7 linked regions of the Homo sapiens genome follow. The protein of the gene in region 5 purifies or fractionates together with the protein of the main gene of each other region. This does not show direct contact. Each region holds a gene or a part of one and is shown on either strand. Other genes may lie near its edges. The genes, in order: TMOD3, MOV10, ARPC1A, RPS6KA3, BCAR1, GAK and HBD.

The links.
Region 1: the proteins of BCAR1 (region 5) and TMOD3 purify together in Homo sapiens (affinity purification with mass spectrometry; 2 studies listed by BioGRID and IntAct, with this or other methods). This does not show direct contact.
Region 2: the proteins of BCAR1 (region 5) and MOV10 purify together in Homo sapiens (affinity purification with mass spectrometry; 2 studies listed by BioGRID and IntAct, with this or other methods). This does not show direct contact.
Region 3: the proteins of BCAR1 (region 5) and ARPC1A purify together in Homo sapiens (affinity purification with mass spectrometry; 2 studies listed by BioGRID and IntAct, with this or other methods). This does not show direct contact.
Region 4: the proteins of BCAR1 (region 5) and RPS6KA3 purify together in Homo sapiens (affinity purification with mass spectrometry; 2 studies listed by BioGRID). This does not show direct contact.
Region 6: the proteins of BCAR1 (region 5) and GAK purify together in Homo sapiens (affinity purification with mass spectrometry; 2 studies listed by BioGRID and IntAct, with this or other methods). This does not show direct contact.
Region 7: the proteins of BCAR1 (region 5) and HBD purify together in Homo sapiens (affinity purification with mass spectrometry; 2 studies listed by BioGRID and IntAct, with this or other methods). This does not show direct contact.

The regions. Positions count from the first base shown.
Region 1 is NC_000015.10:51,895,653-51,899,152, forward strand, and holds part of TMOD3 (tropomodulin-3), read left to right. Parts: intron 1-766; coding exon 767-874; intron 875-3,500. UniProt on the Homo sapiens protein: Blocks the elongation and depolymerization of the actin filaments at the pointed end. The Tmod/TM complex contributes to the formation of the short actin protofilament, which in turn defines the geometry of the membrane skeleton.
Region 2 is NC_000001.11:112,698,659-112,701,239, reverse strand, and holds the end of MOV10 (helicase MOV-10), read right to left. Parts: coding exon of another isoform or gene 2,567-2,581; exon of another isoform or gene 2,526-2,566; coding exon 2,451-2,525; exon of another isoform or gene 2,427-2,450; intron 1,783-2,426; coding exon of another isoform or gene 1,669-1,782; exon of another isoform or gene 1,556-1,668; coding exon 1,430-1,555; intron 1,347-1,429; coding exon 1,258-1,346; intron 1,022-1,257; coding exon 900-1,021; intron 825-899; coding exon 733-824; 3' UTR 501-732; downstream 1-500.
Region 3 is NC_000007.14:99,342,898-99,346,397, forward strand, and holds part of ARPC1A (actin-related protein 2/3 complex subunit 1A), read left to right. Parts: intron 1-1,395; coding exon 1,396-1,618; intron 1,619-3,500. UniProt on the Homo sapiens protein: Probably functions as a component of the Arp2/3 complex which is involved in regulation of actin polymerization and together with an activating nucleation-promoting factor (NPF) mediates the formation of branched actin networks.
Region 4 is NC_000023.11:20,176,410-20,179,909, reverse strand, and holds part of RPS6KA3 (ribosomal protein S6 kinase alpha-3), read left to right. Parts: intron 1-2,825; coding exon 2,826-2,914; intron 2,915-3,393; coding exon of another isoform or gene 3,394-3,411; coding exon 3,412-3,476; intron 3,477-3,500. UniProt on the Homo sapiens protein: Serine/threonine-protein kinase that acts downstream of ERK (MAPK1/ERK2 and MAPK3/ERK1) signaling and mediates mitogenic and stress-induced activation of the transcription factors CREB1, ETV1/ER81 and NR4A1/NUR77, regulates translation through RPS6 and EIF4B phosphorylation, and mediates cellular proliferation, survival, and differentiation by modulating mTOR signaling and repressing pro-apoptotic function of BAD and DAPK1.
Region 5 is NC_000016.10:75,241,625-75,245,124, forward strand, and holds part of BCAR1 (breast cancer anti-estrogen resistance protein 1), read right to left. Parts: intron 1,467-3,500; coding exon 846-1,466; intron 1-845. UniProt on the Homo sapiens protein: Docking protein which plays a central coordinating role for tyrosine kinase-based signaling related to cell adhesion. Implicated in induction of cell migration and cell branching. Involved in the BCAR3-mediated inhibition of TGFB signaling.
Region 6 is NC_000004.12:925,817-929,316, reverse strand, and holds part of GAK (cyclin-G-associated kinase), read left to right. Parts: intron 1-3,500. UniProt on the Homo sapiens protein: Associates with cyclin G and CDK5. Seems to act as an auxilin homolog that is involved in the uncoating of clathrin-coated vesicles by Hsc70 in non-neuronal cells. Expression oscillates slightly during the cell cycle, peaking at G1.
Region 7 is NC_000011.10:5,232,338-5,235,734, forward strand, and holds HBD (hemoglobin subunit delta), read right to left. Parts: upstream 2,147-3,397; 5' UTR 2,097-2,146; coding exon 2,005-2,096; intron 1,877-2,004; coding exon 1,654-1,876; intron 756-1,653; coding exon 627-755; 3' UTR 501-626; downstream 1-500. UniProt on the Homo sapiens protein: Involved in oxygen transport from the lung to the various peripheral tissues.

The sequences.
Region 1 (3,500 bases), on a different chromosome or scaffold from region 5:
TCTCTCCTTCAAGTAGTGTAGGGTTAATCTCTCTTAGTGCTTTGTAGCTTAAACTAAGTGACTGAGAACAGTCTGTCTGCCTCAGGAATCGTACTCATCAGAGATGGACTCCTTCATTTCTTTCCTTGTAGAAAAGTAAATCCACTTTTATTTTCATATAAAAAGAATAATGAAGGCTGGGTGCAGTGACTCATGCCTGTAATCCCAGCACTTTGGGAGGCCGAGGAGGGTGGATCACCTGAGGTCAGGAGTTCGGGACCAGCCTGACCAACATGATGAAACCCCATCTCTCCTAAAAATACAAAATTAGCTGGACCTGGTGGTGCATGCCTGTAATCTCAGCTACTTGGGAGGCTGAGGCAGGAGGGTTGCTTAAACCTGGGAGATAGAGGTTGCAGTGAGCTGAGATTGCGCCGTTGCACTCCAACCTGGGCAACAAGAGCAAAACTCTGTCTCAAAATACATAAATAAATAAAAGGAATAATGAAAGGTGAGAATAATGAGAATTTTTTTTAACCTAAATGCTAGAGAAATGGTGATATGTGCTCTGCTCTGAGTCAGTAGTTTATGCAAATGCTCCATCGTAGATAAGTCAGATAATTATGGAGGAAGCTGCATTATTTGTATTCATTTGTAGACTAATTCTTAGGTGTTTGTATAATTTCTGAATACATTTTAAAGCAAAAAAAACCATATATTTGATTAATGGAAACTAAATATAATGAAAATTGAAATGTAATGATGTTTTATGTTATTGTCTTTCAAGAATATCCCAATTCCAACCCTAAAAGATTTTGCAAAGGCTTTGGAAACCAACACACATGTGAAATGTTTCAGTCTTGCAGCCACCCGGAGCAATGACCCTGTTGCTACTGTAAGTAAGCGACTTGAGAATATCAAAATTATGACATGCCCAGGGTGTGTTACAGTGGTGATTTTTATGAACAAGATTTACCCCTTTTTTATAGTTAATGTTTTAGCTCACTATTAGGCAGTATATTACTTACCAGCTTTTTGTGTTTATTTTTTCCTGTATTTCCTTCCTATGAATTTTTTCCCCCTCCCAGCTTCCCCCTCCTTCCTATGAATTTTTTAAAACATAAATGGAATCATGTAGTATATGCTGTTCTGCAACTTGATTTTTCACTCTGCAGTTTATCTTTAAAGTTTTGTTGTATCAATACATAGGGATCTACCACATTATTTTAACATCTTCAGAGGATTCCATTTATGGATCCTTAGTGGTGGATTTTTGTTAAATGCTTTTGCTGTGTCTCTTGAGATGTTCATATGGTTTTTGTCCTTTATTCTGTCAATGTGGTGTATTGATTGACTTTTATATGTTGAACCAGCCTTTCATTCCTGAGATAAATCCCACTTGATCATGGTATAAACCTTTTGTTTCATTGGCTTTGAGAATATCACTCACTCCCTTGGGGGCTCCCCTTACCTCAGTGGACATTCCTTCTCAAAGCCCTGTACTGGTTTCTCCATATCTCTTCAACTTCTAAATATTGGAATGGCCCAGAACGTGGTCCTTCTTTTCTCAGTCTACACTGACTTTCTGGGTAATCTCAGAAATATATATATTATCTTCATATACTTGCTGATGACTCCCAGTGTTATTATCTACAGTTTGTATCTCTCTCCTGAACTCCGTATTCATGTCCAGCTACCTCCTCAGCAGCTTTACTTGGATGTCTAATGGACATCTTACATGTAAGTCCTCAAACTCCTGACTTCCATCCTGTGCCTGCTTTTCTCTGCTGTTTTCTATCTTACTAAATGCAATTTCAATCTTTCATTGCTCAGGCAAACAAAAAAAAAAAATTTTTTTTTTTTTTTTTTTTGAGACAGCGTCTCACTCTGTTGCCCCGGCTAGAGTGCAGTGGCGCAATCTCGGCTCACTGCAACCTCCGCCTCCCGGGTTCAAGCGATTCTCCTGCCTCAGCCTCCTGAGTAGCTGGGATTACAGGCATGCGCCACCACGCCTGGCTAATTTTTGTATTTATAGTAGAGATGTGGTTTCACCATATTGGCCAGGCTGGTCTCGAGCTCCTGACCTTGTGATCCGCCCACCTCAACCTCCCAAAGTGCTAGGATTACAGGCGTGAGCCACCACGCCCAGCAAAAAAAAAAAAAAAAACAAAAAACTAATGGAATCATTCTCGACATCCCTTTCTTGCAACTTAAACCTACCTTTGGCCCTATCTTCAAAATATTTCAGAATCCAACCACTTCTCACCATTTTCACAACTACCACCTTGACCCAAGCCACCATCTTTTCCCACCTGGATTATTGCAACAGCCTCCTAATTGGGTTACCTTCATCTATTTTACCTACCCCAAAGTCAGTTCTTTACATAGCACCAAGAGTGATTCTTTTAAAACTTAAGTTAAATGACCTCATTCCTATTCGGATAACCCTCTAGCAGCTTCCCATCTCATTAAGAGTAAAAATAAAAATCTTTCAGTGGCCTTATAAGGCTTCACATGAGTGGACTTCATCTCATTTACTTGCCCTTTCTTTCATTCTACTCTAGCCATACAGCCTTCTTCAGCATGCCATGTGGACTCCCAAATCAGGGCCTGTACATTTGTTCCTTCTGCCTTGAACTTTCTTCCTAAAATAATCCACTTAGCTTTGTCTTATCACTTTGACTCTTTGCTCAAATGTCACCTTCTAGTTGAGGCTTTTCCTGACCGTGCTATATAAAATACCAACCCCATTCCCACCCCCAGTATTCCCCATCTACCCTATTGTGCCTTTTTTCTTTTTACCCTCTAACATTGCACTTTGCTTACTTTTATTATCTGTGTCCCTCCCCAGCTAGAATGAACATTCTGCCAGGCAGGGACCAATGTGTTTTATCTCTGAATCTCTAGGACAGTGCTAATCAAATAATAGACCATCAGTAATATTCGAATACATGTATGGATAAGGGATTTGTTCCAGGTCACATAGCTAGTTGTTGCTAATAGAAAGGACAAGTATGTAGATACCAGCCACAGTTTTTTTAGTATCTCTACGCCCTATTGCCTTTCCTTTAACTTTAAGCTTGGTCTTACCCATATTTTCTGTAGTTTAACCTTGCTTTTGATCCCTCTAAGGGGCTGTTTTATATAAACTCATGATCATTGTTCTTTTTTCTCTCTCTTTCCTTCCCCTCCTTCCTTCCCTTCTTCTCTCTTCCTACCTCTGTCTCTTTTTCTTTCCTTCCCAGTCTCCCTCCTCTTTCTTTTTTCACTTGTAGGCTTCTGTTAATTAATCAATATGGTACTTATTAAGCACTGAGTCAAATGTCTAACACTGTACTGTATCCTATGAGAAATGAAATAGAAGCAGATTGAAGACATACCATTACTTGAGGAATTTAATATTTTATTAGCCCCTTCTTCTCAATGGCCTTTGTGCTCTTCTGGTTCTGGTTATCTGTGTTCTTTTCTGGCCTTCTGCCTTGACCATTTCTTTTGGCCCCTGCCTTGGAAATTAGTACATA
Region 2 (2,581 bases), on a different chromosome or scaffold from region 5:
TCTGCAGTAGGGGACCCAGAGTCCCAGGCCCCTGGAGTTGTTTTCGGCAGGGGCCTTGTCTCTCACTGCATTTGGTCAGGGGGGCATGAATAAAGGCTACAGGCTCCAACGTGTGTGGCAGCTTTCGGTCTTTCCCTCTGGGTGCTTGGTGTCCCATCTCTTTTCATGTCCAAGTTGCTTGCCAGCCTGGCCCCCTGTCTACAAAGCAGGCCAGTGGCCAGCAGGGTGGAGTCTTAGAGCAAAGGATGAGGTCATGCCTGGCTCTGGGCCAAGGAGGCGGGTGAAGGGAGTGGTCTGTAGCAGGGGGCTAAACTTAGAAACCTGTGGGTGGCTTCCCTGCCACCTCCCACTGGGTTTCCTCCCCCGAGTGTGGGGGCTGGGTTCCTCTCCAGCTGGGAGGGGATGTGACCCTCAGCAGGGCTGAAAGTCCCACCCTTCCCTACAGGGTCAGCTTAGGGGCTCAGGAAGCTGGGGCCAGGCAGAGGAGACATTATCAAGGCTTTTGCATAGAACAAGATTTTGTTTTCAGAGTTTTCTTCCTTCCCCTTCCCCCAATTGTTAGCAGCTTGATGTGTCATTCTCCCCAGCAGGGGAGGGGGTGGAATGGCTTGGGTTGTAAACTCCCTCCCCCAGCCTTCCTGTCCCTTGGAGGGGCAGTTCAGCTGGGTTCTGGTTCAGGGTCAGGCAGGCAGTTAAGGCTTGGCTGGTGCGAGAAGGCTGGGTGCTGTGTCTTCAGAGCTCATTCCTCCACTCTGGCTCCACTTGCAGAGACAGGCCCCCTTCACCCTCCCGCTCCTGGGGGAGGTAGTCATGGCTGTGGGGCCCTGGAAAGAGAGAAAGTACACTGTGTCTTCCTTACCACCTCCTCTGGCACTGTCCCCACCCTGGCCCAGCCATACCTGAGGTAGAGGGGCTGAGCTTGCTCAGACCTTGCAGTAAATTCTGTCCCTGTTGCAGGTCCAGTTTGGCAGGGAAGGGACACCCGGTATACCCTCCGTTTTCTTTACAGAACTCCAGGAATCTGTGGGGTACAGAGGAGTGCCAGCAGAGACTGGAGGCTAAGCCACGGTCCTGTCCCATCTGAGCTGTACTTGCTCAACCTCTGGATGTCATTTAACTTATAAATACAATAGTGATGCTGTGAAAATGGACACATCTGAGGATTAACTGAGCGATAAGCAAGCGCTTAAAAAAGATCCACCTGCCCTAGGCAGGGGCTGTGGCCACTAAGAGGGAGAATGGGGTGGGAATGCTCACACTTTCCAGTCAGGGTCATGGCCCAGGAGAAGGGGGTTCCCCACGATGATGAGCAGGGCCTTGGCCCGGGTCACAGCTACATTGAACCTCTGGAAGGAAGAAGTGGTGTGGTCATGGGAGGGAAGAGCCCCGAGAATGGAAGAATTCCTGCCACCCCGACCAGCCCTCAAACCTTGGGGTTCTTAAGGAAACCCAGATTAAAGTCCAGATCCAGCTGCACAAAGCTCTGGCTGCTTCGCACGGTGGAGATGAGGATGACGCTTCGTTCTTGGCCTTGGAATTCTTCTACTGAACCCACCTAGTGGGGAAAGAGGCAGGGCCTGAGACCAGCCAGGGGTGTCAAAGGGGTGCCCTACCCCAGGGAGCTTGCCTTCCAAGGAGGGTACAGAGAGGTCACTGGGCAATTGTAGATCAGTGAGTGAACCAGTGCTGCGACACGGCCCAGGGAAAGGGGATGGGAGGTAGGCTGTGGAAGCTGAAACATGAAGGTTGAATCCTGCTGAGGGCTGGGGCCTGCAAAGTGTTCTAAGGAAAGAAAACAGCATTGCAAAGAACACGGGAACTCAGAGCAGTGACTTTCAAACTTTCCTGAAAACAATCACTAAGTATCTGTTAAGAATATACAACCCTGGGCCCTAACCCGGACCCCCGATCAGAATTTCCAAGAGAGAGGCCTGTAAGTCTTAGAGCAGTGTTTTCAACCCTGGCTGCATATTAGAATCACCTGAGAAGCTGTAAAAACTACCAGTGCCCTGGCTCTGCCCCGATAGCTGTATGAGCTGGTGGGTGGGGCCCTGGCATGGGGGCGGGGTATTAAAAGCTCTCCAGGTGATTGTTATCTGCAGCCAGTGTTGAGACCAGAACCTTAAGAGAGAGGCTACTGGGGGTGGGGGTGGCAGCATCACATGACAGGCCACGGAATTTGGACTTTATCCTTAGGGCAGAGGCCTCAAACCTGCCTCAGTCTAAGAATGACAGGAGGTGTTTGTTAAACATGCAGGCTTCCTGATCCCATCCCAGACCCTTAAGTTGGAATCTCCAGGAGTGAGAGGCTCAGGGAGAGCTCGAGCTCTATTCAAGGCAGCAGGGGTGGGACGGGGACGTGGGCTGGAGTGGAAGCTTGAGGAAGTCTCTGGAAGTGGGCAAGTGGGGGCACACGGAAGGCAGGGAGTGACTGTGGAACAGCATGTCACCTTCAAGTCCTTGATGTCATCCAGTCCTCGAAGCTCCCTGTCAAGTTTGGTGATGCAGTAACGGATTTTCTCCACCTGGAAGGAGGGGACAGGTGCCTTTCTCTCGTGCCATTAACCTAATGCAAGAGGGA
Region 3 (3,500 bases), on a different chromosome or scaffold from region 5:
ATTTTTAATAGGGACAGGGTTTCACCGTGTTAGCCAGGATAGTCTCGATCTCCTAACCTCGTGATCCGCCTGCCTCGGCCTCCCAAAGAGCCACCGCGCCCGGCCTAACTCTTCAGTCACTATGACTTATGGGTAATTGAGGCTCAGAGGTATATTTGTCTTTTTTCCATATAAATGTCAAGAATGCTAATTATTAATTTTTAGAGAGAGATCTGTAATAAATATTTATTAGTAATATTTCTGTACTTTTTAATGTGAAATTATATTTATAGAAAATACCTCATCAAGGCCAGGCACTGTGGCTCATGCCTATAATCCCAGCACTTTGGAGGCTGAGACAGGCAGATCGCCTGAAGTCAGGAGTTCGAGACCAGCCTGGTCAACATGGTGAAACCCCGTCTCTACTAAAAATACAAAAATTAGCCGGGCATGGTGGCATCTGCCTGTAATCCCAGCTACTCGGGAGGCTGAGGCAGGAGAATCGCTTGAACCCGGGAGGCGGAGGTTGCAGTGAGCTGAGATCGTGCCATTGTACTCCACCCTGGGCTGCAAGAGTGAAACTCCATCTCAAAAAAAAAAAAGAAAGAAAAGAAAAGAAAATACCTCATCAATAAGTGTTAAATGAGTCATGGTGAATTTTGCTCTTGGTATATAAGAAACTGACCTTGAGTCTTGGTATATGAAAAACTGACCTTGACTTTGGGATTCTTCACAGAGGTACCAGATAAGTAAAGTCTCATCAAATAAGAAAAATAAACCTTACATTCAGATACATATTTAGGTATCTTCCTGGTTTAGATGCAAAGAAACAAGGATTCTTTCACAGGACCTGCATCATGTAGAAAAGGTTTTCAGTATGGTTCAACTGGCAGTGACTTTCAGAAGAATATATGATGAATCACAATATATAGTTCCCCCTCTTTACACTAAAGATTATTTTTATTTACCCTGTATGCTGTTTTAGTTGAATGCCATGTAGCAGACTGTTGGTTAATATCATAGAATGAGGTGTGTTAATGAATACAGTTATTTTCACACACACAAAAATCTAATAAAGAGGAAAGAAAGAAGTAATGAATCTTCAGATCTTTAGAAGTCTTAGAAATGTGTGAATGGGTGGAAAGAATGGCCCCGTTTAGTTTTGTAAAGTCTGTAATTATAAAACAGCTCTTCTACATGACCTCATAGACAATCCCGAGTCCCAGACGCTTTGCAGAGAAGCATCCTTGCCTTTCCTTGAGGCGGTGATCAGGACATAGATAGTGGGAAGGATGTGCCTGGGAGGAAGGTCCCAAGACCACGTCTCATCCTGGCATGCCAGTGCCACCCACCTGCCTGTGCCGCAGTTGTTTGTCATTGACTGGGCAAAGCAGATGACCCATGTCTCACTTGCAGGTATTGACTGGGCTCCCAAGAGCGACCGCATTGTCACTTGTGGGGCAGACCGCAATGCCTATGTCTGGAGTCAGAAAGATGGTGTTTGGAAGCCAACCCTGGTGATCCTGAGAATTAATCGCGCAGCTACTTTTGTGAAGTGGTCCCCCCTAGAGAACAAATTTGCTGTGGGAAGTGGAGCACGACTCATTTCTGTTTGTTACTTTGAGTCTGAAAATGACTGGTGAGTGACATCTGAATTTTTTCTATCCCTCTCTATAGAATTTACATTTGCACTGCTGTGTGAGGGCTCACCATAACTCCAGTTTTTCTCATCCGGAGTTGTGTGGTTTTTTCTCTGAAATTCTCGATTCTGTCTGAGCATTTTCCCTTCTCATGTGCATGTTAAGTTAAATCGCACGTTTTTTATATTAACATAGAGCTATTGTGTCCATGTTCTGATCGCCTAACTTGTTTCTTCTGCAAGATGCTATTACTGTTCTCACTCTATACTGCGCAAATTGCTGTTTTCTTACTCTCATTTACAAATAATAACATTGAAAGAGTCTCCGTTCCCTGAGGAATATTTTTTCTTTTTTTTTTTTTTTCACAGGATATCTATGTAGGATTCCTACAGATAACAATGTTCTTTTTTTTTTTTTTTTTTTTTTTTTTTTTGAGACAGAGTCTTACTCTGTTGCCCAGGCTGGATGGAGCGCAGTGACACGATCATGGCTCACTGCAACGTCCGCCCCCTGGTTCAAGCAATTCTCCTGCCTCAGCCTCCTGAGTAGCTGGGATTACAGTCACCTGCCATCGTGCCCGGCTAATTTTTGTAGTTTTAGTAGAGACAAGGTTTCACCATCTTGGCCAGGCTGGTCATGAACTCCTGACCTCATGATCCACCGCCTCGGCCTCCCAAAGTGCTGGGATTACAGGCGTGAGCCACCACGCCTGGTCAATGTTCCTTCTTTAAAGCTTATTTGCCAACCAAATCTGTGTCTTGGTGTAATATTTTACTTGTTTAAACTGTTGAAGTCAAAACTCACCAGAATCTTAGAAGTCTAATCAGCTATTGCACATTTTTTAAATTACTTCTTGCTGACCCAGTCAAAACACAGGTTTATTTTATGGCCAAAACTTATTTTAACTACTCCTTCCTGTTTGTTTTGATAAGGAAACAATTATTCTCCAGCCTGGCCAAGATGGTGAAACCCCATCTCTACTAAAAATACAAAAATTAGCCAGGCACAGTGGCAGGTACCTGTAATCCCACCTACTTGGGAGGAAGCAGGAGAATTACTTGAACTCGGAGGGCAGAGGTTGCAGTGAGCCAAGATCGTGCCACTGCACTCCAGCCTGGGCGGCAAAGTGAGATTCTATCTCAAAAAAAAAAAAAATTATTTTTCTGTGTGGCATGTGTTCAGCATGACTGGTAAATATCCTTCAACGTAAAGTTGTCATTTACTACTAAACTGGCAGTGTTTGTGTTTCTACTAAAAATAGCAGAGTATACATGACTCTTTGTAGCTGTTTTGTTATTTGTATTCTGCTGAAATTGAAAGAAGGGGATTATCATGTTACCTTTGTAATTTAGTAAAACTTCAGAAATTTTATTCTTCAAAAAGAGATTGGGAATTTGCGGTAAAATTGAGTTATGGGCCAGGTACAGTGGCTCATGCCTGTAACCCCAGCACTTTGGGAGGCCGAGGCAGGTGGATCACCTGAGGTCAGGAGTTCGAGACCAGCCTGACCAACACGGATAAACCCTGTCTCTACTAAAAATACAAAAAAATTAACGGGGTGTGGTGGTGCATGCCTGTAATCCCAGCTACCTGGGAGGCTGAGGCAGGAGAATCTCTTGAACCCAGTAGGCAGAGGTTGCGGTGAGCCGAGATCACGCCATTGCACTCCAGCCTGGGCATCAAGAGTGAAACTCCGTCTCAAAAAAAAAAAAAAAAATTGAGTTACGAATTTGAAACATACATTTTTCTTTCAAATGTGAAATCAAGGCTAACAAAATGTTACCTGCTAGAAACTATTTGGAAGTTTCATTGTAATGAGATAGGAAACTAACTTCATTAATATTCTCTCAAGGCTAAACTTTATGTCAGCTGGTACTCCTT
Region 4 (3,500 bases), on a different chromosome or scaffold from region 5:
CTATGTTGCCAGGCAGGTCTCAAACTCCTGGGCTCAAGTGATCCTCCCACCTCCGCCTCCCAAAGTGTTGGGATTACAGGCATGAGCCACTATGCACCAGCCATGATTTTCTATTATTATTATTATTCCTTCCTCATTTATTAGCTGGTATTTTCTCAACAAACTTTCCCTCATCAACTATGATGATTTAATTACTTGAAATAACGCTCATCCAAGAAAAAGAGAATAAATACTTAATTCTTTTCTTAAATTGTTTCTAATGTCAGAGCCCTAGTTACTTCCTAGTGGGGGTAGTATCCAGTGAGTCGAGTTTTTGTATTTTGACTTTGCTTTTTCTTACTTTACATAATAAACTCATGGGATTTAATAATCAGTGTGATTCAGCCAATTGCAGTCATTATTTTTAATGCCCTAATTGTTCTTTTTCTGACTACCTTTTAAATGGTCTTATCCCCCAGGATCCGTCTATGATATGCTTTTCTTCCCCCTCTGCACTCTTTCCTGACTGACTTCAGTCTTTCCTATAACTACCCTCCACATTTTAATTACTCTCAAATCACTCTTTCTTACATGAATTTACCAGGCATTAGACCTGTGTTTCTATTTACTCACCTGCCTGGCCCTCCCAAAACATATTACATGCATGACTTCACATCTTTGAACTAAATGTATCTTTATTTGCTGTTCTTTTCTTATACTCCCAGTTATCAGCATTTTCATGCACCCTCTTCCAAGCCAGAAACCAGGAAATCATTTTTTATTCCTTCTCTCTTTTGCATAATTAGGTATTCTCCAAATTCGATCTCAGAATTATTTCACTGTTCCAGCCTTTCCTCTGAATTAAACTGCTTAAAGTATTCAGAAAACAGTGACCTCTTACCCATACTATCTGACCACATTCCTAAGTTGATTGCCTACCACTTATGACCTCTTCCCACTCCAAATTGTTCTCTATTACCCTTGGAGTTACCTTCTTGAAAATAAGTCTAGTCATGTTAGTCCAGTTTCAGGACCTCTGCTGCATCCTTGTTACCTAATACAATAGTGTTTCCCCAGATTTGTCCAAGAGAATATTAATTCTACAAGATATTAATAGGTATTCTTTGAAAAAGAGGTGCTGGAAATAAATACTTAGAAAATACTGATTTCACCCATAATCCCAGCACTTTGAGAGGCTGAAGTGGGAGGATCACTTGAGGCTAGGAGTTCAAAACCAGCCTAGTCAACATGGCAAAACTCCATCTCTACAAAAAAAAAAAAAAAAAAAAAAAAAGCCAGGTGTGGTAGCACACACCTGTAATCCCAACTACTTGGGAGGCTGAGACACGAGAATCCCTTGAACCCAGAAGGCAGAGATTGCAGTGAGCCGAGATTGTGCCACTGCAGTCCAGCCTGGATACTCTGTCTTAAAAAAAAAAAAAAAAAAAACTGATTTGTTTGCTCTAGATTTCTCAGCCTTTTTATATGCAGTGTATTTTAATTCTGTGTGTCTAATAGGGGGATATAATAAATAGCATTCTACAAGCTCATTGGGTCATGAATTTTTTTATTGTTGCTAACTATCTAGAGGGATTAATGTTATTCAGTAAAATTTGGGGAAACACTAGCCAAATGAATAAATTGTTAGCCTTTAGATTGCATTGAAGACCTTTCATAATCTCCCATGTTAAATTAAATATCCCCTACTGTTCCCTTGTCACTCTTTGCATATGTTCTTCTGCATTTGTCTCTTAATGTACTAGCATTATCTGTATCCATCTTCACCATGGACCATGAGTTTCATGGGCTCTCTTTATCTCTGTATCCTCAGCACTAAACAGTGTCTGGCATGTAATAGCTCAATAACAACCCACTGAATAATAAATGGATCTGTTTCTGAAATAGGAATTTTCCCCAGCTCTATTATTATTGTCATACTTACAGGATCATTGGTTTCTTTAATTTGTAGGTTTGGAAAAAGAATTAAAATTAGAGCTGAAACAGACCTTCAAGTTCATCTAGGCCAGCAGTTTTTAGACTGTGTATCTTCAATATTTCACAATCCTCTTTCCCACAGTTCCCCTTCCCTTCAGGGGCTGTTAAAGGGAATAGAAAGGAAAAAGTGGCATATGAAACACATGTTCTCTTAGCAGCTTTAAATGTTAGGTTTCTTAAATTCCCTTTGAGGAGGAGTTCCGAGGCTATACTTTGGGAGCTATTGGTCTAGAGACCAATCCCTTTGCTTATGAAGAAATGATAACAGGCCCAGAATAATTGGCTTTCCCACTGTCACAAAGTTCTTAGTAACAGAGCCAGAACTAGGATTCAAATGATCTTACTTTCACAGTGCTCTTTGCAAAATTTTGAAAAATGAAAAAGCTTATTAGATTATGAACTAAAATTCAGTTATGTGTTCACATGAAAACCTGTACATAAATGTTCACTGTAGCTTTATTCATATTAGCCCCAAACTGGGCACAACCCAAATGTCCTTCAACAGATAATGGATAAATAAACTGTGACATATTCATACAGAAGCCATACATGTAATAAAATGGCATAGAACTAAACACACACACAAATAAGTGCAAATAAAACCAGTGCCATGTGAATGAGATCATTGGATTGTCTCCATGTCAATATCCTGGATGTGATATTGTACTGTAGTTTTGTAAGATGTTACCATTGGGGGAAACTGGGTAAAGGGCACAGGGGATCTCTCTGTATTATTTCTTACAACTGAGTGTGAATCTACAAGTATCTCAAAAAGTTTAATTTAAGAATTTTTAAAAATAAAAATACAGATGCCTCCAAAAAATAAAATATTATGTGGATTTATTATTTAGAGCCAAACTTGGAATGCCACAGTTTTTGAGTCCTGAAGCGCAGAGTCTTTTACGAATGCTTTTCAAGCGAAATCCTGCAAACAGATTAGGTAAAAATTTTAACTAATTTGTTTATGTTGTATGTTTGTTGGTGTTTGTTTTTAGCGGGGAGTAGATATTTGTTTTGTGGTGGAATTATTAACTATTTAGACAAGGCTAGGCCTGGTGGCTCACGCCTGTAATCCCAGCACTTTGGGAGACCAAGGCGGGAGAATTACTTGAGTCCAGGAGTTCAAGACCAGCCTGGGAAAAATGGCAAAACCTCATCTTTACAAAAAATACAAAAATTAGCCAGGCATGGTGGTGCGTGCCTGTAGTCCCAGCTACTCAGGAAGTTGAGGTAGGAGGATCACTTGAGCCTGAGAGGTTGAGGCTGCAGTGAACTGAGATCACACCACTGCGCTCCAGCCTGGGTGACAGAGCAAGCCCTTGTCTCAAAATTAATTAATTAATTAATTAATTAATTAGACAAGTATTGAAAACAAAGGCTGAGCAATATGTATATTTCTCCTTGAAATAAAATTATCAGTGAATCCATTTTTGATAGGTGCAGGACCAGATGGAGTTGAAGAAATTAAAAGACATTCATTTTTCTCAACGATAGACTGGAATGTAAGTATAGAATGAAAACTTGCT
Region 5 (3,500 bases):
CCCATGTCCATGGAGTCCCCCACCCGCCAACGACCTCCGGCCATGCCTCCTGGGTACCAGGCCACCCATGGGCGGGGGTGGGGGTAACTCCCAGCTGACTCGCTGCCCAGCTGGCACCAATGAGGTCTCCACCTCAGCCCTGGGCTGAGTGTCTAGTGCTGACTCCTTCCTACAGGCAGGTGAGCTTGGGAGGCAGGGGCCCTGTGGACTTGGGAAGCGGGCTCAGGGTCTGGAGGCCAGAGGTCTTGTCCCCAGGCCCAGCATCCCATCAGCAAGAGCCCAGGAGGCTCTCAGGGCAGTCCTCCTCTAGCAATCTCAGGGGCAGCGTCCTCCCAGGAGTCACATCCAGATCACCATACGCACCCGCTGGCCCCTAGCATGTTCCATAAGTGGAGAGGGGTTGGCCTGTGGAGGCAGGGGCGGCCAGAAGATGTGCCGGAACCCCATCTAGAGGCTGACACGTAAACCCAGATGGCACAGGGGAGCCTGAGCATGAAGTGGCTGGCCTCTCCCTTGCGGGGGCCCAGCAACTGCCGACCCCATGTGCCAAGCCCCGCCTGCCCACTGGAACGCCTCAACAGGCTGCTCCCTGTGGTTGGTGACACCACCACTCGGGTCGGCTTGGCTGAGGCCAGCGGAGCATCTCCCCTCTGGGTCCATTCACATCCATCTTCCCCGGACAAATGAACACCCCCCAAACACTCACTTCCCACTTTGACCCCAGACCAAACACACAGCCACTCCTGGAATGCCGGTGATTGAGGGTGGCTGGACCCTTCTGTGCCCACAAACCAGGGCCTGGGCTATACCTGTGTGGCTGCACAACTGTGCCAGGACAGCCTTACCTTTGCCGGGGGCTTCGTGCCCTCCCAGCTGCGTGTGTCCATGGACGGGGGGACCTGGTAGATGTCATGCCCCATCCCGGCAGAAGGTGGCACCTGGTAAATATCCTGGGCAGGGCCTCCAGGCCCTGGGGGCACCTGGTACAGGTCTGTGGCCGGGCTGGGAAACGGGTGATGGGGTGTCTGCTTCGAGAAGGTGGATGTCTGCTTGGCTGGGGGAGACTGGAACTGAGGGCTGGGACCCGGGACTTGGTAGAGGCCTTGCTGAGCCTTGCTGGGAGTGGGCACCAGGTAGACGCTGTCTGGCTGGGGCTGGTAGGTGTTGGGGAGCATGGGCGTGTACTGGGAGGCCGGAGGCGCTGGGGCATGGAGGCCAGGCTGAGGCTGGGCCGGGGTGGCGGGAGGGCCGGGGCCAGGCCCTGCTGGCTTCTTATCATACATGCCCACCAAGATCTTGAGGCGGTTCCCAGGCACGATGCCCTGGCGCCCATGCAGCGAGCAGAGCCACCAGCCGTCCAGGCCCTGCGTGTCCTGCTCCAGCACCGTCATGATGTCACCCTTGCGGAAGGAGAGCTCATCCGGGGACTCGGCCACATTGTCATAGAGCGCTTTGGCCAGCACGTTCTGGGGAGAGAGGACACAGGTGTGAGAACAGAAGGATGTGCATGGGGCGTCAGGGGCTCCCCAGCTCCTGCCCTGCTCTGGGGAGGTGCCCAGCTTTGATACTAGGAAAAGAACTCAGTGGAGTTTGGCGAGATCATTGTGCCTTTGCCTCCACTGTCCCCACCTGTTCCCCAGCAGAAAGGCCCAGCTGATCCTGGCCTTTCTTTCAACTGCACCTGTATAGCACCTCAAAATCCTCTTGACCACTGTCACCACCAAAACTCCAGGGATGACCCTCAAGATATCCCTAAAAGCCCCACCCAAGGCCACTCTGCTACCTGGACCAACACAAGGAGAGCGGCAGTAATCACGACAAAGCTGCCAAGTTAAAACAAATAGCAAATGGTTCTCTCTCGAGGTGCACGAAAATAATCTGACAAAAAGAACAGCTTCTTAGGATAAAAAAATGAACAACAATAAGACAGAGCTTCCTTAACAAAGTCTATCTACCCCAAATCCAAAAAGTCAGTAATTAATTTAGAAACTTCAAACACCTTCCCCAAGGCTGGGAAAGAAACAGGAGGCACACCCTCCCTGTCCTGGCCCCGTCGCCCTCAGCAAACCCTTGCAGAGCCGGGTACGTGCTCCATGTGGCCCAGGAGCCAAGCAGTCCGAGAGGGACTTGGAGGAGGCTGTGGGATCAGAGGCATGAGTGCCGTGGCGAGGGCAGGGGCGGAGCCTCGCTGGGACACTAGAGCCCAGGCAGGGAGGCCTCGCAGTTTCCCACCACACACTCATGCATCCTCGCCCCTGCCGCTGCTGCCCCATCGAGGTGCCAGGCGCAGGATGGGCCCAGAGAGACAGAGGATCCCTGGCTGGAGGGTGTGGGCGGTTGCAGCAAAAGGCAGGTGTGAGGGAGGCACGGGGTGAGACAAGGCCAGGGCTGCGGCCCCTCCTAGGGCAGCAGAGGGCTGCATGGGTTCCACAGGGGCCCCAGACTTCACACACAGGGAAGCCGGGTGTGAGAACAGTGCCAGGCTGGCTGGACAGTGACCGGCACTGGGCTCCAGCCACCCCACCAGCCTGGCCTCAGCTCTGGGCTGCCCTGCAAGGTCCCTCCTCAGAGTCTCCTGGCGTCTTAGATGTGCAGCCTGGTCGAGACTCTGACTCGGAAATGGGACCTGGGTTCTGGCCAGCCAGTAGCTGTGTGACCATCCCCACTTGGGCCCAAGTCCCACTTTCTGGACTCCATCTGCAAGGAGTGAAACAAGGAAGAAAGGGCCACGCCCCCTTGGGCAGAAACAGGAAGCAGGAGCCTGTGCCTTGGGGCAGAGGAGTGGGGGTGAGGCCTCTTTCAAGTCCCTAGGGCCCACCCTCCTCCCCTATATGAGCAGGGGCTGGACAGTGCCCCTCTGAGCGCCATCTCCCTGGCCGGCATCAGAGGGCGATGGCATACCAGGCAGCGGCCTGGGTAGGCAGTAGTTGCCCCAGGTCCCAGGATCAGACATTCAGACCCCATGGTTCACTTGCCCTGGGTGGACATCATCAGCAGGGAGCCCATTTCTCCAGAGCAGCTAGGAGCCTCCAGTCCCTAAAAGGGCCAGAGGCTGGAGTGTGGAGAGCCAGGAGGAGCAAGGCCCAAGGGAGGGGCCAGGGGGCAGCTAGGAGAGGGCAGGCCCAGGTGGAGTCATATTGGAGCCAAGGTGAGCACAAGGGCAGAGGCCCTGGATGGCTGCAACACTGTCCACACCATGATTACAACAAAATGAAAAAGGCACTCAAGTGAAAAGCACATCTCAAGAAAATGTCCTGTGAAACGTAAAGACAAGAGAGGGTCAGGAAGACACCAGAGATGTCTGAGACAATGGAGATAGTTTCTCTTCCTGTTTTTCAGGAATGAGTGTTTCTTGCTTTGGGGCTGAAAAACTACACAAAAAGAAAAAAAAAGAAAACGGTGGACTATGTCCCAGGCTCTGAGGCAGGACGGGACAGGCAGTGCGGCAGGTCTAGGGGCCAGAGCCCCACAGAGGAGCGGGAGGGCGGGGGCTGTCCTGC
Region 6 (3,500 bases), on a different chromosome or scaffold from region 5:
CCCGCCTCGTGCGTTTGGTTGGGTGTTGTATGTAATTTGAGCCAGCCCGCAGCCCTTGTGTGCCATGCGCAGTGTTAGCTGAGTGGCTGGGCCCGCTCAGGAGCCTTGGGGGTCAAGCTCTGGCCTAAGGAATGGGGAGGGCACAGCCTACTCCCACCCCCAGGGCCACTTGTGTGTGGTCCTGACTCTCCACCCTTCTTCCTCCTTGACATGGCTTTTGGAGGCTTCCTCCCTTCACTTACTTAGAATGTTCTGGGCCGGGCGCAGTGGCTCACGCCTGTGATCCCAGCACTTTGGGAGGCCGAGGCGGGTGGATTACCTGAGATCGGGAGTTCGAGATCAGCCTGGGCAACACGGGGAAACCCGTCTCTACTAAAAATACAAAATTAGCCGGGTGTGGTGACACATGCCTGTAGTCCCAGCTACTCAGGAGGCTGAGGCAGGAGAATCGCTTGAACCTGGGAGGTGGAGGATGCGGTGAGCCAAGATCACGCCATTGCACTCCAGCCTGGGCAACAAGAGTAAATCTCCGTCTCACCAAAAAAAAAAGAAAAGAAAAAAGAATGTTCTGGACTGGGTGAGGGCACTGTGAATATTTGGTACTGACTGACAGTTGCAGAATCATGTGGTACAAGCAAGACTCTTGGTTGCAAGTTTCAGAAACCCTCCCAGGTGGGCTCAGTGGCAGGAAGGCCCCATGTCTCCAAGGTGGGCTCAGTGGCAGGGGAGGCCGCATGCTGGCCCCATGTGTCCTCCGCAGGGTACACTTGAGATCATTTTCTTTTATTGAAAAGAGTCTGGCTCTGTCGCCCATGTTGAGTGCAGTGGAGCGATCACGACTCACTGCAGCCTTGAACTCCTGGGCCTACGTGATCCCCCTGGCCTAGGCCTCCCAGAGTGCTGGGACGACAGGCATGAGATAATGTGCCCAGCCTTAGACTGATCTTAAAAGTAGACCGGGCCGGGCACGACGGCTCACGCCTGTAATCCCAGCACTTTGGGAGGCCGAGGTGGGCAGATCACCCGAAGTCAGGAGTTCGAAACCAGCCTGACCAACATGGCAAAACCCCATCTCTACTGAAAATACAAAAACTAGCTGGGCATGGTGGCGCGTGCCTGTAATCCCAGCTGCTCAGGAGGCTGAGGCAGGAGAATCACTTGAACCTGGGAGGTGGAGGCTGCAGTGAGCTAAGATTGCACCACTGCACTCCAGCCTGGACGACAGAGCGAGACTCTATCTCAAAAAAAAGTAGACCCTTAGGTTGCTGTGGCGAGCCAGCCTTGTAGCCGACCCTCTTCCCACATAGGACTTGTGACTGAGGGCACCAGCCTCTGAAGCTCCGTGCTGTTCTCTTGGCCATGTGACTGAGGGCACCAGCCTCTGCAGCTCTGTGCTGTTCTCTTAGCCACCAGGGTTCTGTCATCCTTGCTTCTTTGTACCTCTCCTGGACCCAGAGCCTGAAGTGCGGTGGCTGCGCTCACCCAGGGAGGGGTGCGGGGCCTGCGCTCACCCAGGGAGGGGTGCGGGGCAGTGCAGAGCGCAGGTAAGCAGGGAGGGGTGCGGGGCAGTGCAGAGCGCAGGTAAGCAGGGAGGGGTGCGGGGCAGTGCGGAGGGCAGGTGAGCGGGGAGGGGTGCGGGGCAGTGCGGACTACAGGTGAGCGGGGAGGGGTGCGGGGCAGTGCGGACTGCAGGTGAGCCGGGAGGGGTGCGGGGCAGTGCGGACTGCAGGTGAGCCGGGAGGGGTGCGGGGCAGTGCGGACTGCAGGTGAGCCGGGAGGGGTGCGGGGCAGTGCGGACCGCAGGTGAGCGGGGAGGGGTGCGGACTGCAGGTGAGCCGGGAGGGGTGCGGGGCAGTGCGGACTGCAGGTGAGCGGGGAGGGGTGCGGGGCAGTGCGGACTGCAGGTGAGCCGGGAGGGGTGCGGGGCAGTGCGGACTGCAGGTGAGCGGGGAGGGGTGCGGGGCAGTGCGGACTGCAGGTGAGCCGGGAGGGGTGCGGGGCAGTGCGGACTGCAGGTGAGCGGGGAGGGGTGCGGGGCAGTGCGGAGCGCAGGTGAGCCGGGAGGGGTGTGGGGCAGTGCGGAGGGCAGGTGAGCCGGGAGGGGTGCGGGGCAGTGCGGACTGCAGGTGAGCCGGGAGGGGTGCGGGGCAGTGCGGAGCGCAGGTGAGCCGGGAGGGGTGTGGGGCAGTGCGGACTGCAGGTGAGCGGGGAGGGGTGCGGGGCAGTGCGGACTGCAGGTGAGCGGGAAGGGGTGCGGGGCAGTGCGGAGCGCAGGTGAGCGGGGAGGGGTGCGGGGCAGTGCGGAGCGCTGGTGAGCCGGGAGGGGTGCGGGGCAGTGCGGAGCGCAGGTGAGCGGGGAGGGGTGCGGGGCAGTGCGGAGCGCTGGTGAGCCGGGAGGGGTGCGGGGCAGTGCGGAGCGCAGGTGAGCGGGGTGGGGGGGGTTGCGGGGCAGTGCGGAGCGCAGGTGAGCTGGGAGGGGTGCGGGGCAGTGCGGAGCGCAGGTAAGCAGGGTCTCTGGGGCTTGGTTAGTTGGTTCTAGGTCATCAGGCCTGTGAGGCCCAGATTCTGCCACAGAGTAGCTGCCCCCTGGCGGCTCTCCTGGTACCAACCGCCTTCACTTCCAAGTTGACAGCTTGATCATCAACATTTGTCCACTTTGGCTAGTTCCCAGCGTGAAGTAAAAATGGTCAGAACCACCACAGCAACCCTTAGGGGCTCTTCGTATTTGCCGAGCATGGTCAGTAGTACTTTATGTGGATTGTGTGGTCCTCACAGTAGCCCTGGAAAGTGGGTACTATAATTACTTCCATCTCGCAGAAGAGAAAAGTGACGTTTGCAGAGATTAGTTGCTTGCCAGAGGTCGAGTGGTGGAGTGGGGGCTGGGAGCCCCAGGGAGGTGTCCTTAGGGCCCCTGTCCTGGCCCCCGTTGCTCTGCGCATTGTGCCCTGGAGGAGATGTCTGAGCATATAAGGTAGTAGAGGCTGTTGGGGCGGAGAGTGACAGGCCAACACCACTTCATGCTCAGCTGCGGCTGACCCTTGGCAGGAACAAGCCTGTGTTACTTCTGTGGTTTCTGTCTGTTAACATACAGGGAGGTCACTCTTGGGGAGGACCCCATGGGTGGGCTCACCATTGGGGGAGGTCACTGTCGAGGGAGGACCCCCTGGGGTGAATTAGACGTTCGGGGAGGTCACTGTCCAGGGAGGACCCCCTGGGGTGAATTAGACGTTTGGGGAGGTCACTGTCGGGGGAGGACCCCCTTGGGGTGAATTAGACGTTCGGGGAGGTCACTGTTGGGGACGACCCCCGGGTGGGCTCACCACTGGGGGAGGTGACAGTTGGGCTGGGCCACTCCCCTTTCCTCCTCCTCCACTCCGTGGACTCCTGGTGAATTGCTCATGGTTGTCTGTGTGGGTGCGCATCCCCGTGTCCCAGTCCGTCTGTGCTGCTGTAACAGAACGTCGTACACTGGGGGCCTATAAACCACAGACGTTTGTTTA
Region 7 (3,397 bases), on a different chromosome or scaffold from region 5:
ATCTTGACTGAAATATGGGAAGATAAGAGGAAATTCTTTACAGAGATGTTCTGGGGCAAGTAAGAGGAGGAAGCTATTTCTTGGAGCAGGAACACTTGATGGGGTATAGTATTATGGGCTACAATGTGCAGGCAAAGGAAGGAGGAAGAAAGACAACATAACATTGTCTTGAGTAATCATTATGCCTTTAATTGAGCACATTATTTTCTCAGTAATTGTTGGAGTTTAATCGTAGCATTACCCTTGAGGCTATGTCTTAGGGTTGAGGTCTTCCCTAGAACCTCTGCAGTGCCAGTATTATCTTTGTATCAAGAGTTCTTGATAATTTCTGCTCTTTGGAGGTAGAAGTGTCACCCATTAATGCCTTGTACGGTTCCCTTGCTTTTCTCTTTTCCCATGTACTCTTTGTAAAATAAACAAGTGCTCCCTATCTGTAGAGCCTCAGGAACCTTCTTACACACCTGGACAAAAAAATGAAATAAGTGAAATTAATCAGGAAGTTGAGCTGAACATTCTTTATTAGGCAGAAGCCATACCCTTGAAGTAGGCATTGTGTTCCCAAGTTCAGAAAATAGAATCTAGGGAAATAGGGTCTTCTTATGGTTATCAGGAAACAGTCCAGGATCTCAATGGTACTTGTGAGCCAGGGCATTAGCCACACCAGCCACCACCTTCTGATAGGCAGCCTGCATTTGTGGGGTGAATTCCTTGCCAAAGTTGCGGGCCAGCACACACACCAGCACATTGCCCAAGAGCTGCGGAGAAGAGGTAGGCAGATACATGCATATGGTTAACAGAGAAATAAAGACTGGCTTCTGAGAAACTGAGCCAACACCCATTTTTTTCTGCCCAAATCTTAGACAAAACTGATCCCCAGGTTATTCCCATCAGCATAAATAAGTACATATATGAATGCATACATATAACATATATCTATACACACACATCCTCTATGTACTTAACTAGCATGTAGTCTATATATGTACATATATGCTATATATGCTGTATAATACTATATACAAATTAATTCCAAATTAGTTTTAATTTTGTATGTGTATATAGCATATACAAATTAATTACTATAAACAGATTAATAGATACAAATTAATTGATTAATCAGTGTGATGATGGGCTGTCTCCTAGCAACGACTTCTGCCCCACCTCCAGTGTAACTGCCTAGTCTTTCATAATCAAATATTCACTTTCCTTTCCATTCCATTTACTACAGAATTTATAAAATTCCAATTATTCCTTATTGTAAAATGATTTATAGCCTCTAAAACAGTATTCTATGCCTCTCATCTTTGAGTTGGAGCCTCTCCCATACCCATGTGGAGAGACAAAAGGATTATTCTAAGTGCAGAATTAGCAGGTGAGAGCTGGTATGCATAATTTGAGTTGTTGTTAGAGAAGGAAAAATGAAGGGAGGGGGTTGGGAGAGAAAGACAGGATATTAAATAATTTAAAATAGCAAGATTGTGAGGAAGGAAAAAATGCAGAATATTTAAATAAAAAATTAACAAAATTTTAGAAGCATTAAATGATAAAATATAGTAAAATGACAAAAATGTGGGAGAAGAGCAGGTAGGTAAAAGAACCAAAATGTAAGATTAGAAAGTAAAAAGAGAAAAGTGAAGCATCTCCTGGACTCACCCTGAAGTTCTCAGGATCCACGTGCAGCTTGTCACAGTGCAGCTCACTCAGCTGAGAAAAAGTGCCCTTGAGGTTGTCCAGGTGAGCCAGGCCATCACTAAAGGCACCTAGCACCTTCTTGCCATGAGCCTTCACCTTAGGGTTGCCCATAACAGCATCAGGAGAGGACAGATCCCCAAAGGACTCAAAGAACCTCTGGGTCCAAGGGTAGACCACCAGTAATCTGAGGGTAGGAAAACAGCCCAAGGGACAGAGAGTCAGTGCCTATCAGAAACCCAAGAGTCTTCTCTGTCTACACATGCCCAGTTTCCATTTGCCTCCTTGAGCCTCTCTTATAACCTTGATACCAACCTGCCCAGGGCCTCACCACCAACTGCATCCACGTTCACTTTGCCCCACAGGGCATTGACAGCAGTCTTCTCCTCAGGAGTCAGATGCACCATGGTGTCTGTTTGAGGTTGCTAGTGAACACTGTTATGTCAGAAGAAAGTGTAAGCAACAGTCGACTCTGCCCTGCCTTTTATGCTGGTCCTGTCCTCCCTGCTCCAGTGAGCAGGTTGGTTTAAGATAAGCAGGGTTTCATTAGTTTGTGAGAATGAAAAATGAACCTTCATTCCACTATTCCCTTAACTTGCCCTGAGATTGGCTGTTCTGTCATGTGTGTCTTGACTCAGAAACCCTGTTCTCCTCTACATATCTCCCCACCGCATCTCTTTCAGCAGTTGTTTCTAAAAATATCCTCCTAGTTTCATTTTTGCAGAAGTGTTTTAGGCTAATATAGTGGAATGTATCTTAGAGTTTAACTTATTTGTTTCTGTCACTTTATACTAAGAAAACTTATCTAAAAGCAGATGTTTTAACAAGTTGACTCAATATAAAGTTCTTCTTTGCCTCTAGAGATTTTTGTCTCCAAGGGAATTTTGAGAGGTTGGAATGGACAAATCTATTGCTGCAGTTTAAACTTGCTTGCTTCCTCCTTCTTTTGGTAAATTCTTCCTATAATAAAACTCTAATTTTTTATTATATTGAAATAAATATCCATTAAAAGAATATTTAAAAAATGAATAGTGTTTATTTACCAGTTATTGAAATAGGTTCTGGAAACATGAATTTTAAGGTTAACATTTTAATGACAGATAAAATCAAATATTATATACAAATATTTTGAATGTTTAAAATTATGGTATGACTAAAGAAAGAATGCAAAGTGAAAAGTAGATTTACCATATTCAGCCAGATTAAATTTAACGAAGTTCCTGGGAATATGCTAGTACAGAACATTTTTACAGATGTGTTCTTAAAAAAAAATGTGGAATTAGACCCAGGAATGAAGATCCCAGTAGTTTTTCACTCTTTTCTGAATTCAAATAATGCCACAATGGCAGACAAATACACACCCATGAGCATATCCAAAAGGAAGGATTGAAGGAAAGAGGAGGAAGAAATGGAGAAAGGAAGGAAGGAAGAGGGGAAGAGAGAGGATGGAAGGGATGGAGGAGAAGAAGGAAAAATAAATAATGGAGAGGAGAGGAGAAAAAAGGAGGGGAGAGGAGAGGAGAAGGGATAGGGAAGAGAAAGAGAAAGGGAAGGGAAGAGAGGAAAGAAGAGAAGAGGAGAGAAAAGAAACGAAGAGAGGGGAAGGGAAGGAAAAAAAAGAGGAAAAAAGAGACAAGAGAAGAGATAAGACTGACAGTTCAAATTTTGGTGGTGATATGGATCAATAGAAACTCAAACTCTGTTGGTG